2 separate regions of the Homo sapiens genome follow, and region 2 is linked to region 1. The links come from fine-mapping of genetic effects on gene expression. Tissue or cell type: whole blood. Region 1 holds a variant in brackets; the other region holds the start of a gene. All regions are shown on one strand. Distances are from middle to middle. Region 1 overlaps SBF1 (SET binding factor 1). Region 2 holds the start of ADM2 (adrenomedullin 2).

The links. PIP is the estimated chance that this variant, and not a neighbour inherited with it, causes the effect.
Region 2: it holds the start of ADM2, and the variant in region 1 is the best candidate, but not a certain one, in a credible set for the expression of ADM2 in whole blood (INTERVAL, PIP 0.83).

The regions. Positions count from the first base shown.
Region 1 is chr22:50,449,933-50,452,795 of GRCh38, reverse strand. The region is part of intron 36 of SBF1 (SET binding factor 1); the gene reads left to right. Among named protein-coding and RNA genes, the nearest start is that of SBF1, 24 kb to the left of the region's middle. The variant C/G (reference allele first, on the strand shown) is at 1,339.
Region 2 is chr22:50,479,758-50,482,660 of GRCh38, reverse strand. It overlaps ADM2 (adrenomedullin 2), which reads right to left and starts at 1,118. Exons shown (of 3, transcript NM_001253845.2): 1 at 898-1,118; 2 at 704-824; 3 at 1-94. The coding sequence starts at 813. RefSeq lists silencers at 872-991, 1,042-1,331.

The sequences.
Region 1 (2,863 bases):
GTCACACATTTTATTTTTACGTATGACATAAACACCCAGTATGGTTTTTTTTTTTTTTTTTTTTTTTTTTTTGAGAGATGGAGTCTCCCTCAGTCACCCAGGCTGGAGAGCGGTGGTGCGATCTCGGTTCACTGCAACCTCTGCCTCTGAGTTCAGGTGATTCTCCTGTCTCAGCCTCCCAAGTAGCTGGGATTAGAGGCACCCACCATCATGCCCGGCTAAATTTTTTTTGTATTTTTAGTAGAGACGGGGTTTCACTGTGTTGGCCAGGCTAGTCTCAAACTCCTGACCTCAGGTGATCCGCCCGCCTTGGCCTTGCAAAGTGCTGGGATTACAGGCGTGAGCCACCGTGCCCGGCCCTGTTTTTGTTTTAAATAGTCAACTTTGTTTTAAGGAAATTAAGAAAGAAGGAAAAAGTCTTCTATTTTTGCCATTTATAACATTCTTCATTCTTTCAGTATAATCTGGTCTGGTTATTATTTCTCTTCAGCCTGAAGAATTTTTAATATTTCTTGTAATGCAGAGCTGCCAGTCACAAATCCCCTCAGCTTTTGTTTATCTGAAAACATCTTGGTGCCTTTATTTTGCAAAGGGCATTTTCTCTGGATATGCATTTCTAGGTTGACAGCTGCTTCTTTTTTTTTTTTTTTTTTTTAATTCAGCAGTTAAACTGATGTCACTTTAAAAGATCTCATTACTAGGCTGGGCGCAGCGGCTCACGCCTGTCATCCCAGCACTTTGGGAGGCTGAGGCAGGTGGATAACCTGAGGTCAGGAGTTCGAGACCAGCCTGGCAAATATGGTGAAACCCCGTCTCTACTAAAATATAAAAATGAGCTGAGCATGGTGGCGGGTGCCTGTAATCCCAGCTACTCAGGAGGCTGAGGCAGGAGAATCGCTTCAACCCGGGAGGTGGAGGCTGCACTGAGCTGAGATCGCGCCACTGCACTGCAGCCTGGGCGACATGAGTGAGACTCTGCCTCAAAAAAAAAAAAAAAAAAGATATTACTTTGTTTTCTGGCCTGTATTGTTTCTGCTTAGAAGTTGGTGTTGATTCTTATCCTTATAAACTGTGTATAATGGCACCCTTTGATTCTCTGCCTTAAGATTTTGCATTTAATTTTGGCTTCAGCAATTTGACCATTGTGGTTTTTGCTTTCGTCCTGCTTGGGGCTCTTTAAACTTCTGGGTCTGTGGGATGATCATTTTTGTCAAATTTAATACATTTCAAGCCATTGCTTCTATAAATTACTTTTTCTGCATGATCTCTCCCTTTCCTTCTGGAACTTTATTGTCCCATACGTTGCTGAAGCTCTGTTTGTTTTTTCTCAGTCTTTAT[C/G]TTTGCAATTCATTTTGGATGATTTCTGTTGGCTTGTCTTCAAGTTCACTACTCTTTTCTTTCTTGTTTTTAATATACTGAAGCCCATCAAATGAATTTTTTTTTAATTTCTTGAGACAGGGTCTTGCTCTGTTGCCCAGGCTGGAGTGCAGTGGCACAGTCATGGCTCACTGCAGCCCGAACCTCCCAGGCTCAAACAATCATCCTGCTTCATTCAGCCTCTTGAGTTGCCAAGACTACTGGCGTGGGCCACGTGCCGGCTACTTTTTTTTTTTTTTTTTTTTTTTTTTTGTAGAGATGGGGTCTCCCTATGTCACCCAGGCAGGTCTCAAACTCCTGGGCTCAAGCAGTCCTCTCACCTTGGCCTCCTAAAGTGCTGGGATTACAGGCATGAGCCACCACACCCGGCCCCATCTAATGAATTTAACGCTTTTTATTGTAGAGATTCCCCATCTGATAAACCATTATGTCCATCTTTTCTTTTAAATCTTGAAACATAACTTAAAAATATATATAAAGATGGGGTCTTGCCATGTTGCCCAAGCTGTTCTCACACTCCTTGGGTCAAGCGATTCTCCCTCCTCGGCCTCCCGAAGTGCTGGGCTTACAGGCGGGAGCCACTGTGCCCTGCCTGTGTTGTCTTTCTTTAAGCTTAGAGTCTTGGGTTTTATTCTCGCAGGTAGGTAATGAGCTTGTGCGTCAGCTTGGTCTGTTTGAAGCTTGTTTCTAAGCTTTGTTTGGGCAGCTCTCCAGCACCTCTAGAGAAGCTCCAGGGATAGAGCAGCCCAAGGCGTGTGGCCTCTCCAGGGCTTCAGTTGGAGTTTTGTGTCTTTGTGTCTTCGGTAAGGTCTTGCCACACTGGCTTTTTGGAAGTCCAGTATCTTTTAGCATTCCTCTAGAATTTGGGTTCAGCTCATAGTTTTGTTTTTTTTTTTTTGAGGCAGAGTCTCACTTTGTCTCCCAGGCTGGAGTGCAGTGGCGCACTCTCGGCTCACTGCAGCCTCCACTTCCCATGTTCAAGCAATTCTCCTGCCTCAGCCTCCCGAGTAGCTGGGATTACAGGTGCCCGCCACCATGCCCAGCTAATTTTTGTATTTTTAGTAGAGACAGGGTTTTGCCATGTTTACCAGGCTGGTCTTGAACTCCTGACCTCAGGTTATCCACCCGCATTGGCCTCCCAAAGTGCTGGGATTACAGGTGTGAGCCACTGCTGCCGGCGTCAGGTCATAGCTTCTTAGTAGCTGTTCTCTGCCAGGCCTTGTGACATCTTGCTTTGCACATGGCAGCCTAATTTGGCCAACGACTCAAGGAGGGCTCTGTCTAGATTTCTAGAGCCCCTTTGCTGTGGTGCTCCCTCCCCTCTGTGGGCTGCCCTGCAGACCCAGCTGCACTAGCGCCCCTGGACGTCCCGTCTCTGCCTCCTCGGCTCAGCAAGCTCCCGTGTGTTGCTCTGGCCCTGCCTCCCTGCACTGTGGCTGGGCAGAAAACAGGTGACTGTGGGGCCCATCTTATGTGGTCCCATGTC
Region 2 (2,903 bases), 30 kb before region 1:
TGCCTGGAGGGCCCGGTGAAGCTTCCAGACCACAGGTCGGGGTGCGGGGTGCCTGGGCTGCAGGCTGCTGGAAGGGCTCCGGGCTGGGGGCTCCCTGCAGAGGCAGATGGAGAATGTCAACCAGATGGCTCAGCCTTTTGGAGAACTCACACCTGCCCACTTTTGCCTCTACACAGGCCTGGGTCACTGCCAGGGGAAGCCCACAGCCCCCATCCACACACAGCCTGGAGCACGGCCAGGGGAAGCCCGCGTCCCCTCTGGGCTTGGGCCTGGGACCATCTCAGTGGCCCGGGTCACGTGTCCCGGGAACCGGCACCTCCTTGGCCAAAGGGCACCCCGGCGGCCCAGCCTCTGCGGGTCACCACTCTCAGGGCTCAGGGTGACTCGGCTTCTGCCCTCCCTTTAGGGTGGTCACAGGCCGGCCAGGGATACCGCCAGCCTCCCCTCCCCCAGCAGACACCCCCAGAAGAGGGGCTGCTGTGCCCATGTGTGTGGGGAGGAGCAACTGCCCTGTGTAGGGAGGCAGAGAAAGAGGGGCCTCTGGCCCTGCTCAGGCGCTCCTGAGCCTGGGGTAGGGGCCTTTGTTTGGGAGGGGAGTCCTAGCAGCAGGTGGAGGCGTGGAGGGAGGGCGGCCCCGCGGCCCCCGGCACTCTGCTTCCCTGCGGGGGCCAGAGGGGTTGGCTGGCCCAAGACCTGGACTCACCTGGGTTTGACGGGTCGCGGGTCCCCGCCCAGGCTGCGGGACAGCGAGCCAGGGAGCTGCAGGCAGAGGAGGCTGATGCAACCCAGGGCGGCCGTCGGGATCCGGGCCATGGCGGGCGGGGCTGCAGGGGAGGGGGCGGTGAGCCGGGCACGTCGGGGGCAGCCTGAGCCGCGAGCCACCCCCTCCGCCGGCACCTCGGGGAGTCCTCCGCGGTCGGGGCGCCGGGCGTGGGCGTGGCAAGCTGGGCACGGGCGTCCGTCGGGGCGCAGGCCTCGGGCGCGAAGCGGGCAGCGGGTCTGGGGTCGGCCGCGGGTCCGGGGCGCAAGGCGGAGCGGGCTGGGCGGGTTGGGGGTCCTGCCTGGAGCGGAGTCGCGGCCCGGGATGGCACCTCCAGGGCTGAATACGTAGCCTTTCCAGCAAGGGGCGGAGCCGGATGCACGGACGGGGCGGGGCGCCCCTCCTCCGGGCCCAGCCACCCTCGGGGCGGGGAGGGGGCTGCGGCGAAGGGAGCGGTGGAGGGGCCTGTCCCCGCTGGGAGCGCTCGGCGACCGGCCCGGGACCGCGGGACCGCCAGCCTCACTCCAAGCGCCTTCTGGTGGGGACGCAGCCCCGAGCCTGCGGGGGCCGGACTTCCCCACGCTGCAGCGGGGTTCTGGGGGGCGAACCGTCGTCCGAGCTGATCCCACGGCTGGGGCGGACTCGGACCCGACGGGGCCCACCCCGTCAACCACCTCCCGAGTCCGGGCGGTCCCACCCTCCAGGGTCTGACCCGGTGGACCCCGGCCCCCCAGCCTGACCAGCAAGTCCGCGGGATTCCGCAGCGGGCTGGCCATTCCGCTCTCCTCTGACGCGGTGCCGCCGACCCCGGGGCTGCGCTCCTAAAAGGCTGTACCGACCCTCGGCCGCTCCAACCCCGGACCAAAGTATTGCACGGTTTTTGTAACAGATTTAAAGTGTCCGGGCGCGGTGGCTCACGCCTGTAATCCCAGCAGTTTGGGAAGCCGAGGCGGGCGGATCACGAGGTCAGGAGATCGAGACCATCCTGGCTAACAAGGTGAAAGGCCGTCTCTACTAAAAATACAAAAAATTAGCCGGGCGTGGTGGCGGGTGCCTGTAATCTCAGCTACTCGGGAGGCTGAGGCAGGAAAGGCTGAGGCTTGAATCCAGGCGGCGGAGGTTGCAGTGAGCCGACATCGCGGCATTGCACTCCAGCTTGGGCGACAGAGCGAGACTCCGTCTCAAAAAAAGAAAAAAAAAAAAGAAAAAGAAAAATTTAAAACGAGTGAAACGTGAGACTCCCCTCACCATTGCCACCCACTTGGGACCCCTACCCTGGTCTGGGGGGGAGCCCTCTCCTGACTTGCCCTGGGCACACCTAGGTGTGGCTATGTGAGGCACACACATCCATGTGTGCAGATTTGCAGTAGGACTGAGACCCCGTTCTTTCCTGAGAGCTTGTTTGGAGGTCCTGGCAGAGGAGCGCAGCTACTCGAAGCCCGGTCCTCCATCCTCTTCGATGGAGCGTGCAGCTTCGGAGGGACGCACAGGGAACAGTGGGGAAGGAGGGGGACACCTGCCTCTGAGCCAGCCACATCAGCCGAATCAACACTGGTGACCAGTGGGGTGACAGGCGTCACAGCCCGACCGTCCTCACATCAGAGACCCCACTCTTTCCTATGGTTGGATCTACTCCAACATATAGGTGTTGTATGATTCATCTCATCTGCTATTAATATGAAATTAGGTGACTGCCAGTCTTTTCATGAGTTGCTGCCTTGAGCTCACAGATGTGTCTATAGGACACCTTCCTGGAAGTAGAAATTCTGGTTGAAGGTGAGCATGTGTTTATGTTGATAGATGGTTCACTGTTCTCCACAGAGCTTTCGCCTACCCACTGTCCACGAGTCCTGGACTTGGTGTCACGGGTTCCAAGCTGCTGAGACTGGCCTCTCTGTTGGGTGAGCTGAGGATCTCTGCGTCCGTTCGTGCTTCCCCTTCTGTCTCCCCAACCCCTGCGCTCACCCCGTAACCCTCCTGCTGACACACCATGGGAGCACAGTCAACATTTGCTGGGTGAATAAGTCGAGGAGTGCCGAGCACACACCCCACAGGCCGATCTGGGAGGGCAGGGATGCCTTGCAGGTATTATTTACTTATTTTGACCAGTTGAGGGGGCAGGGAGTGTCACATTTATATGTTT